3 linked regions of the Homo sapiens genome follow. The protein of the gene in region 3 interacts with the protein of the main gene of each other region in a pairwise test. Each region holds a gene or a part of one and is shown on either strand. Other genes may lie near its edges.

What was found.
Region 1: the proteins of CEP44 (region 3) and RNF8 interact in binary tests that used the Homo sapiens proteins (3 or more experiments, as listed by UniProt).
Region 2: the proteins of CEP44 (region 3) and POP5 interact in binary tests that used the Homo sapiens proteins (3 or more experiments, as listed by UniProt).

What each region holds. Positions count from the first base shown.
Region 1 is NC_000006.12:37,363,902-37,367,655, reverse strand, and holds part of RNF8 (E3 ubiquitin-protein ligase RNF8), read right to left. Parts: intron 1-3,754. UniProt on the Homo sapiens protein: E3 ubiquitin-protein ligase that plays a key role in DNA damage signaling via 2 distinct roles: by mediating the 'Lys-63'-linked ubiquitination of histones H2A and H2AX and promoting the recruitment of DNA repair proteins at double-strand breaks (DSBs) sites, and by catalyzing 'Lys-48'-linked ubiquitination to remove target proteins from DNA damage sites.
Region 2 is NC_000012.12:120,579,824-120,583,577, forward strand, and holds the start of POP5 (ribonuclease P/MRP protein subunit POP5), read right to left. Parts: upstream 1,580-3,754; 5' UTR 1,540-1,579; coding exon 1,520-1,539; intron 1,435-1,519; coding exon 1,292-1,434; intron 101-1,291; coding exon 1-100. UniProt on the Homo sapiens protein: Component of ribonuclease P, a protein complex that generates mature tRNA molecules by cleaving their 5'-ends. Also a component of the MRP ribonuclease complex, which cleaves pre-rRNA sequences.
Region 3 is NC_000004.12:174,307,836-174,311,589, reverse strand, and holds part of CEP44 (centrosomal protein of 44 kDa), read right to left. Parts: intron 2,902-3,754; coding exon 2,731-2,901; intron 1,741-2,730; coding exon 1,534-1,740; intron 808-1,533; coding exon 732-807; intron 1-731. UniProt on the Homo sapiens protein: Centriole-enriched microtubule-binding protein involved in centriole biogenesis. In collaboration with CEP295 and POC1B, is required for the centriole-to-centrosome conversion by ensuring the formation of bona fide centriole wall.

The sequences.
Region 1 (3,754 bases), on a different chromosome or scaffold from region 3:
GAGGTGTGCGGATCACTTGAGGCCAGGAGTTCAAGACCACCCTGGCCAACACAGTGAGACCACCTCTCTACTAAAAATACAAAAATTAGCCAGGTGTGGTGGTGGGTGCCTGTAATCCCAGCTACTTGGGAGGCCAAGGCATGAGAATTACTAGAACCCAGGCGGCAGAGGATGCCGTGAGCCAAGATTGCATCACTGCACTCCAGCCTGGGTGACAGAGCGAGACTCTGTCTCCAAAATAAATAAAATAAAATAAAAATTTACTTTTATGGTTTTAATGAAGTCATAGTATTGAGGTTAAGAGCACAGATCCTGGAGTCAGACTGCCTGGGTTTGTAATGTGGCTCTATCATTTAGCAGCTGGGTGATGTTGGCCAGGTTTCTTGACCTCTTTATGGCCCAGTTACTGCACTGATAAAATGGAGGAAAATAAGTCTCTCCCTCATGGTGTCTGTGTGGATTTAATGAGATAACATATGGCAAGTATTTAGACAGTGCCTGGGCATCGTATTACGTAAGTGTTCACTACTATTACTATGCCTTGGTTCAACTGATTCATCAACAATCATTTCAACTCTATGCTCAATGTCACGCAAGGTAAATATATTGAGTGAAAAGGACATGAAAGCTTTCAGCAGCTGATGGTGGAAAAGACAACACAAGGGCACAAATGAGCAAATGTGGGATTACATGGCATAGCCTGTAAATGCAAAGGAATATCATGTGCAGCTGGGATAGCTATGGGATGCTAAATGGAGATGATAGGTCCTAAAATAGACTTGAAACAAAGGCAAGATTCAGAGTTGAAATATACTGGTGAGCATTTTAACCCGTATCAAGGACTTAAGTTCAGGGGATAGGCCAGAGATGAAGCTCACTTCTGAATTGGGACCAAGATTTATGTTTACACTGGCAACTACAGCTACCTACTTTCAGCTAGAAAAAAATCTCCAGTCAACCCAAATATGAGGGACAGGGGGCTTGACCACAAGGCACAGAGGGTAAAGGGAAAGTAGAGATCAGATCTTAGCTCTGGTTTGGCATTAGGCCCTTGTTTCCAGTTTTATCTTCCATTACTTGGTTTACACGGAAAGAAAGACTGGCATAGATACATACAGAAATATTAGTCTTAACCCACTGTGCATTGGGCCTAACCTGGTTCATCTAGGAAACCTCCTCACACTCTTTCTATTCAGCCTGAGAAACTATGGGGAGTGATAAGGTTTGCTGAATTTTGAAACAACATATGAGAAATAACAACAGAGAGGGATGGAGCTAGAACAATCTATCTGAGAACAATTTTAGAGCAGGACAGTCGATTTTAGATTATACACAGGAAAAAGGTCTCAGAAAAAGTAGTAAGACACAGAAGGCCACCTAATGCCAAGGTACAGAAATTTAAAGGAAGTCTCCAAAGCTAAGATAAGGTAAAATAAATAAATAAGATTACAGAAACAGCCCACAGCTAAAGAGAGTAGGAAGTTTGCCCTCAGAACTTCTGAGTTCTGACAGTCCACAGCTAAAGAGAGTAAGTTTGCCCTCAGAAGCTGGGGCAAACTTTCACGATATGTTGCAGCCTTCCATTAGATCCTCTACATTAACCCATTGCCTTCAGAGCCCTTTTAGAAGCTGGAAGGTAAACTCAAAATTCTCCCATCACATTTTGTCCTTGGATCCTTGTACATTTACCCATTCATTACTTCTTGGTGACATCTAGTGGTATAATTTAAACCAAGCCCTGAGTCAGGTCTGTTCATATAAGGAGACTAGAAAAGGACAAAAATCCCATGGCGGTACAGAACAATCAAGTACTGCCAGATATGATCTCAAATACAATGGCTTAAATAATCATGCTCTGTTCAAGGCTTTCTTAATGTTGGTTTTCATAACTACCCATTTGAACAATGCTAGCAGCAGAAAATGATACCCAGAAAAGTCTGCCTGATGTGTCCTAGCCACCAATGGGAAAAAAGTGGGATAATTCACATCCACTTAGACAGGAATTACTTCACTAGATGCTCAATCTCTGTCCAGCTGCTTTTAAACAGTTATTGAGGAAAGTGGACACTCAAACCAAAAGACAATGTTTTCTTGGAGTGCTTTAGATAATTTACGTAGCTCAGTGGTTCTCAACCCTGGCTATACAGTAAAACTACCTGGGAAGGTTTAAAACAAAGAGCAGTGCCTAGGTTTCACCCTCGGAGTGAGTTAAGTGGTCTGAGATAGGAACTAAGTATCAGTATTTTAAAAGTTACATTTATCTATAAACACATATAGTTGTGTAACTATATCAAGAAACAGTGCCCCTTGGTAGTCAACCTTTCCCGCATTCCCAGGCAACTACTTATCTGTTCTCTTCTCTTTCCCAGAATGTAATACAAATGGAATCTTATTATCTACACTTTTGAGTCTTGCTTCTTTCACTTAGTGTAACGCCTCTGAGATTCGTCCACACTGTTGCATTATCGGCAGTTTGTTATATTTTATTGCTGAGTAATATTGAAGGTAGTAGGGGTGGAGCACAGTTTATCCATTCCCTAGTTGTTTTTTTTCCCAGTTTTTGGTGAATATTAATAAAGCCACTACAGGCCAGGTGTGGTGGCTCACGCCTGTAATCCTAACACTTTGGGAAGCCGAGGCAGGTGGATCAGCTGAGGTTAGGAGTTCAAGACCAGCCTGGCCAACATGGTGAAACCCACCTCTACTAAAAAGACAAAAATTAGCCAGGCGTGGTGCCGCATGCCTGTAATCCCAGCTACTCGGGAGGCTGAGGCAGGAAAATCACTTGAACCCGGGAGGCAGAGGTTTGGGGAGCCGGGTTCACGCCATTGCACTCCAGCCTGGGCAAAAAGAGCGAAACTCCATCTCAAAATATAAAAACAAAAAAAATAAAGCCACTAGAAACATTCACATACAAGTTTCTGCGAGAACATAAGCTTTCATTAATCTTGGGTAAATACCTAGAAATAGGATCACTGGACAAGTATATATTTGACTCTTAGAAACCACCAGTTTTTCAAAGTGGAGGTACCATTTTATATTCACACTTGAATGTTGAGGAGTTCCAGTTATTCTGCATGCTTGCCAGCACTTGGTATCATCAAGTCTTATTTCAGCAATTGTATTAAGTATGTATCCGTCAATATATTTTTTAAAGTCTTTACTAAAGCGGAACATGCAAACATAAACGTGCACAAATCATAAATGTACCAACTCGATGAACAGTCACAAAATGAACATCTTAGTGTAACTACCATAAGGTCAAAAACAAAACAAACCCCACATTATCAGCATCCCAGAAACCCCTGTGTGTCTCCTTCTAGTCAGTAGCCACCTTGGCAATAAAGTGACTACTATCCAGATTTAACAGCACATGTAAATTTTGCCTGGTTTTAAACATTGTATAAATGGCATCATATAATATGTATTCTTTTGTGTCTGTCTTCTTTCACTCAATTTTTTTTTTTTTTTTTTTTTGAGACAGAGTCTCGCTCTGTCCCCCAGGCTGGAGTGCAATGGCCTGATCTCGGCTCACTGCAAGCTCCGCCTCCCAGGTTCATGCCATTCTCCTGCCTCAGCTTCCAGAGCAGCTGGGACCACAGGCACCCGCCACCACGCCTGGCTAATTTTTTATATTTTTAGTAGAGACGGGGTTTCACCATGTTAGCCAGGATGGTCTCGATCTCCTGACCTCGTGATCCGCCCGCCTCGGCCTCCCAAAGTGCTGGGATTACAGGCGTGAGCCACAGCGCCC
Region 2 (3,754 bases), on a different chromosome or scaffold from region 3:
TCCAAGTATGTGATGAAGGGAAGAGCTGACCACACAAGCTGATAGAATTCTTTTCTGCATCGAAGTAGCACTATTCCAGTATAGGCATTGAGATATCGAACTACAACAGGAAAGAAAAATCATTTTGGAAAACTTTTGCTCTGTGTGGTGGCTCACGCCTGTAATCCCAGCACTTTGGGAGGCTGAGGCGGGCAGATCACTTTAAGTCAGGAGTTCGAGGCCAGCCTGGCCAACATGATGAAACCCCGTCTCTACTAAAAATACAAAAATTAGCTGGGTGTGGTGGTGCGCACCTGTAATTCCAGCCACTCAGGAGGCTGAGGCATGAGAATCGCCTGAACCCAGGAGGCAGAGGCAGCAATGACCCCCGATCTCGCTGCTGCACTCCAGCAGCCTGGGCAACAGCCAGACTGTCTCGAAAAAAGGAAAACTTTGGAGTAACAGAGCCTACTATGTGCCAAAAGTATGTTGTAGGCAAGTGGCACGTAGATCTATCAGCGAGTAAAAGAGAAAAGCCAAAACACCCACTGTGTTGCACACCACTCAGAACTGGTGAATGAATTTAGAATTGAAAATGCTTTCTAATTCACTAGTTAATTCAATAAATAGGAGCAGGTAGGAGGCGATCCGTTTTAATTTAGGAAAAACCCCCACAAAACCCTTGCCTGAAAAACAGGCTGTTTTACTGCATTTGGGCTCCGTAATTATTGTAGCAGTCAGCTCTCAGTCTCACCTGACTTAGGAGAGTTAAGTCTATCTGCATTTAACTCTCCAGAAGTCAATCTCAAACAAGGTTAAAGTGGGAACTAATTTAAGTGGTGTGAAAGAAGGGCCCCTCTGTCCTAGCTCATCCTGTATTTACATATATTGACAATCATGTGTTCTGTACTTTACCAACTATTTAAGGGCTTTCCCGGAGTACTTTTGACAATTTTTTTCCATATGATGTTAATGTAATCGGTCATATAATAGCTCTTACTAGGAAGTATACACAGCTTCCCTCATTTAATTCTCTACCCTATCAAATTCAATCACAACCAATTACAGAAATTACCTGTCAAGCAGGTAAAAAGAGGCTTCTAGCTCAAAGCCCCACTGCCTTCGGGCCCCTCCTTTTAGCGCTCTGCTAATTTCGGACTCTCGCTTGGGGTCCCAGGCGCTTAAAGAGATACCTTACAAAAAACGGTGCACGGGCTTGGCCACTCGTGCCCCTTCTTTCTTCCTCCGGCGCCTGCCCCCTCCACATCCCGCCATCCTCCCGGGTTCCCCTCTTCCCCCAGCGCCCTTGCACCCGCGAAGCCGATGGAGCAGGCGGCTGCGCCGAAAGTTCCGTGCACCCTGGCGATCGTGTCCCGTACGAGGCTGCTCAGAACTCGGTCATCGAGGCTTAGGCGGCAGCGGGGGTCGTCAGACACCAGTTCGCAGAGCAGGTACCTGCGGCAGGCGAGAGGAAGGTGGACACTAGCGGGGCCGCGAGGACCCAGCAAGGCACTGGGAGGGTCTGGAAGGGAATGCTTACCTGTGCTTGAACCGCACCATGGCTGCCTCCGCGCTCTCCGGTCCGGCGTGCAAACCGGATGTGAATTCTGTCCGCTGCCAATGGGAAGCTTGCTTCCGCAGCCTTTCAGCCATTCAGAGAAGGAGACAGGATATTAGGGCGGAGCTAGAAAGTTGAGAGGCCGAAGTCTGTCAGCTCTCTCAAGCCCCGCCCAACTGCGTTTGTAAGCGCGCATGCGTCCTGCGGAGGGTCACTGACTAGTTTGAGGGCTGAACCCCGGGATGGAGCGCCTTGCAGCTGTAATGGATGGTTCTGTTGCACACTGAAGTTTACAATAGTGTGTAGGATGTAGCCGCTACCCTTGGGGCCCTGGGAACCTTGCACCACAGTTATGTATGCGAGTATATTCTCTCCCCAAGGTGAACGGTGGAGCTTTTGAGGGCAAGACCCTGCACCTCACAGCCCAGGCATTGACAAACGGGAAATCGGACTTTTATTTTCAGGTTTGAGCTCAGTTTAATTCTTCCATACAGCTAAATATGCTATTGCTGTTTGGGCCTTTCAGCAATCTTAGGGAGGCGAGTGTGCCGTCTCGTTTTTTGCTCGCAGAAACAATACGTGGTCATTGTATTTTCCATTTCCGTTTACCTTTTTTTTTTGACAGAAAAGCACAAAGAAGCAAATAAATTATAATCCCAGCACTGAGAGAGAATAACTGTTGTCGTGTAGTGTGTTTTCTTCTGTCATTTTCTCCCTGCGCCAGTGGTTCTCAAAGTGCCGTCTGGGGACCACTGAGATTTCCTAAATTCACTCGATTTGGGAGTCCCCGAAGTCAAAATTACTTTCATAATAATGCTAAGATGTTACTTGTCTTTTTCATTCTCTCTGAGTGAACAGTCAAGTTTTCCAGAGGCTGCTTGACGTGATGACGTCACTGCTCTAGGAATTGTGTATTGTTTTTTAAACGTTTCTCAACTTTAATGTCCATAGTAAATATAACCCACAAAACTAAAAGCTCTTGGGCACCCTCAGTAACGTGTGTAAAGGGGTCCTGAGACAGAGAAAACAGCTTGAGAACTATGCCCTCTGTTAAATTATGTTTTTTCTTTTATTTTTAAGTATTTTAAAAAAAATGTCTTATGGGGTATTACATAAAGTACATATTCTTAAGTGTATTCATCTCAATGAATTTTTACATATGGATAGACTTCTATAACCACCTCCAAGATTAAAATAAAGAGCATTTCCAGTATCCCAGAAGGTTCCCTGAGCCCTCTTCCAGTCAAATTGCTTACTGCTATCAGCCACTATTACCACTTCTACCCTGCTAGATTAATTTTGCCTGTTCTTAAACTTTATATAAATGCAGCCAGGAGGCTGGCTGCAACCTCTGCCTCCTGAGTTCAAGCGATTCTCCTGCCTCAGCCTCCCGAGTAGCTGGGATTACAGGCACCTGCCACCACGACCAGCTAATTTTTGTATTTATTTATTTAGTTTTTTGAGACGGAGTCTCACTCTGTTGCCCAAGCTGGAGCACGATCTCAGCTCACTGCAACCTCTGCCTCCTGGATTCAGGCGATTCTCCTGCCTCAGCCTCCCAAGTAGCTGGGACTACAGGTGTGTGCCACCACAACTGGCTAATTTTTGTATTTTTAGTAGGGACAGGGTTTCCCCATGTTGGCCAGGCTGGTCTTGAACTCCTGACCTCAGGTGATCCACCCACCTCGGCCTCCCAAAGTGCTGGGATTACAGGCGTGAGCTACCACGCCTGGCCATTTGGCTATATTTTCATGTCAGCTCTTCAGCGACAATACTGTTTTTTAGCTGTGCAGTATTGCATTGTTTGGACGTACCATTGTGAAGTTGGTCAGTATCCCTTTGGTAGACGTTTACATTATTTCTAGATTTTCTTGTTATACCCAATACTTTGATGCATGGCTTTGTAGCTTAGTCTTTATGCCCATCCCTGATTATTTGTAGAAGTGTCTTGGCCTTGGCTGGTCCTGTGAGGTCCGTAATGGGGGCAGCTTTCACAACCTATTTTTGCAAGATCTGGAATGAGTTCTGAATTTTCCCATCTCCCACTCTTCTTGGCCACCTTAAAGGAGGGATGTGGGGGAAGGTAGGGAAGAAAAGAATAGGAAGAGGGAACGCCGTGGCCCTGCCAAGGGACCAGTGACAGTGACGGCACTCCCCACCCAAGAACAACTTTTCACCAGAAAGTGTCTGCGACATCCTCCTTTGGCCAACAGGGGG
Region 3 (3,754 bases):
ATTGTTACACATATAGTAGAGCTGAAAGATTTTATAACGTTAACAATCCACAGATATTAAAAATTTAACTTAACGATGAATTCTCAATTGGACAAAACATCTCTTCTATAGCTATGATTTAATCATAGATATGGCACAAAATTTAGATCTTTTAAAAATACATAACAATCAAAACAAAGCTGTCACTGAAAAACAGAAATCTTACCCTTGCTGCTCAGTCACACTAAGCAAAATATCAGTAGCCTAGTAAAGTGACCAGGAAAAGACCTATCCTAATATCAGATCTTTCCCATTTTATCATTATCAGTGAACTATTCACATGGAAGAAGTTTGCAATACTTTATAGATACTGACAAATGTGTTTTCTTCTCTTACATATTATTATTTACATATGAGAAAGCTACTACCTACCTAAGCTTAAATTTAAAAACTTGGAGGCCAACATTAATATCCTAGAGCACTTGATTATTCTCGAATGATTAAAACAGTAAAATATCTCTAAAAATTTTCAATTTTGTACACTGAAATTTATTCACCCACTATGTTATGTGAAATAAGTAGGCTGGTTAGTTAAGCAATTCTTGGCTTTAGTAGTCTGTAGGTTCATTATGTTCTTTGTTCTAGGAGCTTTGCAATTTCTAAACAATAAAGCTTAAGAATATTAAAATTACTATAACAATCATTTTTCTGAAAACTCATCATACCAATTCTCATAGTATTTACAAACTTACGAGGATTCAGAAGGTCCATGTCACTACAAGAAGCGTAGTCTTCACTAACTTCATTAAACTCTATAAATTCATCATTCTGGAATAACACAGTTAAATATTTAGAATGAAATAAAAAGAAAAACCCTCTCATTTTATATTCTTAATGCTGAGCATAAAATATAAAGGTAGCATGATAAATGTTTAAATATTTTTAATTTTTTATTAAAGCAATACATATACTGCATATTCCTACATATAAGAAATGTTTTAAATATGGAAGCAGATAGCAAGCTACTTGACTTCACCTTCTAGGAAGGAAAGACAGACCAGAAATTGAAATCCTGAGTAAAAAAAAACAAATTTCTCAGATTTGATAAGGCAATGGTAAATCTGGTAACTATTCTATGAAATTCACAATATGATTGAAGTAAATGAGTGAAAAAAAGATGGGAAGAGTTACCTATATCTTCTGTATCTTTTCTACCCTATGAAAATAGGTTATTTGTACTATTAAAAGATATAAAATAATTTTAAGCTTTTCATATCTATCATATTCTTACCTCATTTTAAATTCTTCAAGCATTATTAACATCTGTAAAAGCTCAACTGACAAGTTTTTCAGATTATCTTATTCAATGAAGAGAGAAACAACAGCCACAACAACATACAGGCTATATTTAAACAGGACTTCATTCTAACTAGACATTTTCTCATTATTCAAATATTCTCATATTTAGCATTTCCAAAAAAATACACATATAACAATCAAAAAAAAACTTTGTTATATCTGAGATATTTTATAAATGTTAAAGGAGGAAAATACCTTTTTAGACAAAAGCATTTCTGTTTCAAGAAGAGTGACACGACTAAGAAGATTAGTCCAGGTGTTTTCATCTACCATCACTTTTCCTTTCATTTTTTGTTCCAAACAGTCTAACCTTTTCTCTATCGAAGTCAGTTTCTTAAGATTTTCTTGGCATTCAGCAAGCATAGTTTGTAGTGCAGTAATCTCAGGATTAACATTTACATCCTAAAAAGGTTAGAGAGATTAAAAATAAAATTAAACAAACTGAAATTTCTTTAAAATTAATGTATTCTCACTTCCACAGCGTTATCTCAACAGTTAGGAGAGACCGTCCTGCTTGAGAGTTAAGAGAGCTATCTCTGGATGGAGACTACTTGGCCACTTAAACCAGTTCTGAGATTTATGATCTTGATGCCTCCATTTCCTCATTAAAAAAAAAGAGATAAGAGCAGTATCTATTTCATATGATTCTTCTGATAATGAGTTAATTTGCATGATTCTCTTAATACCAGCTAGTAAAATAAAACTATTATTAACTAGCTTCTTGAAACAACGCTTAGCACAAAGCTAAGAGGAAATGACCAAAAACAACACTTAGTGCATTGAGATTGTTCGGTTTGCCATATAACAGGAAGTAGGTCCAATGGCCATCTGGTAGTTTTTGTAAGTGCCAACTGTATATTGATATACTGAGATATATAGAAATCACAAGACATAGAAACACAGAAAAAGAAGTCTTAGCAGAAACAGTAGAGATCAGACATATTGGGGTCTGTGGCAATTAAGAGTAATAGAAATGGTTTTTTAAGAGAGACAGAAAATAACAGCAGGGACCCAGAAAGGAAAATGAATAGGCAATAAAGTGCCAATCTTTTCCATTCACCAATAAAGAAAATAGGTGGTAGAGAACCTCCACTATGCAAAGTAGCATATCGCTATGTCTCACTAAATTGTAGATTCCTTAAAGCCAAGTACCATATCTTATTCTACTTTGCATCACCCCAACACTTAGCCCAGCACCCTACACATATGCAGCAAATATTTGTTGAATTATTTTAGTAAGACTTATTGACACTTCAGTAATTGTAACATAGATAAAATGTCATGATTAATAATTCAAAAGGCTAGAAATATTCCAAAGTTTAGAGGCTGAAATAATTACACATATTTAAGTAAAAAATACTGGCATCTATTTAAAAAGTCCAAAGTTGTTACCTGTTGCTCAGCCTTGATTTCAGGAACCTTTACTTCAGGCATCTTTATTTCAGTAGCATTTAAGTCAGACACATCAACTGCTTCATTAACATCTGTTATTGGACTTAATGTATCCTCAGAAATGTCAACATTATCTTCATTATACAAGTGACGAATCACCACAGCTTTCTTCTGCATAGAGAAAAATATGTAAGAAACACTTCAATGTTTTCCTCCCACAATTATTTATTTTTTAACTTTTAAGTTCAGGGGTCCATGTGCAGGTTTGTTACACAAGTAAATGTGTGCCATGGGGGTTTGTTGTGCAGATTATTTCATCACCCAGGTATTAAGCCTAGTACCCATTGGTTATTTTTCCTGAACCTCCTCCTACCCTCCACCCTCTGAAAGGCTCCAATGTGTTTTGTTTCCCTCTATGTGTCCATGTGATCTCATCATTTAGCTCCCACTTACAAGTGAGAACAAGTGGTATTTGGTTTTCTGTTTCTGCATTAATATGCTAAGGATAAGGGCCTCCAGCTCCATCCATGTCTCTGCAAAGGACATGATCCCATTATTTTTTACGGCTACAGAGTATTCCATAGTGTGTATGTACCACATCTTCTTTATCTGCTCTATCATTGATGGGCATTTAGGTTGATTCCATGTCTTTGCTATTGTATTTAGCTTGATTCCATGTCTTTGCTATTGTGAATAGTGCTGCAATGAACATATGCATGCATCTTTACAACAGAACAATTTATATTCCCTTAAGTATATACCAAGTAACGGGACTGCTGGGTCAAATGGTCTTTAGGTCTTTGAGGAATTGCCACACTGTCTTCCACGGTGGTTGAACTAACTTACACTCCCACCAACAGTGTATAAATGTTCCTTTTCTTCCACAAACTCACGAGCATCTGTTATTTTTAGACTTTTTAATAATAGTCATTCTGAGAAGCGTGACATGGTATCTCATTGTGGTTATGATTTGCATTTTTCTAATGATCAGTGATGTTGAGTTTTTTTCATGTGATTATTGGCT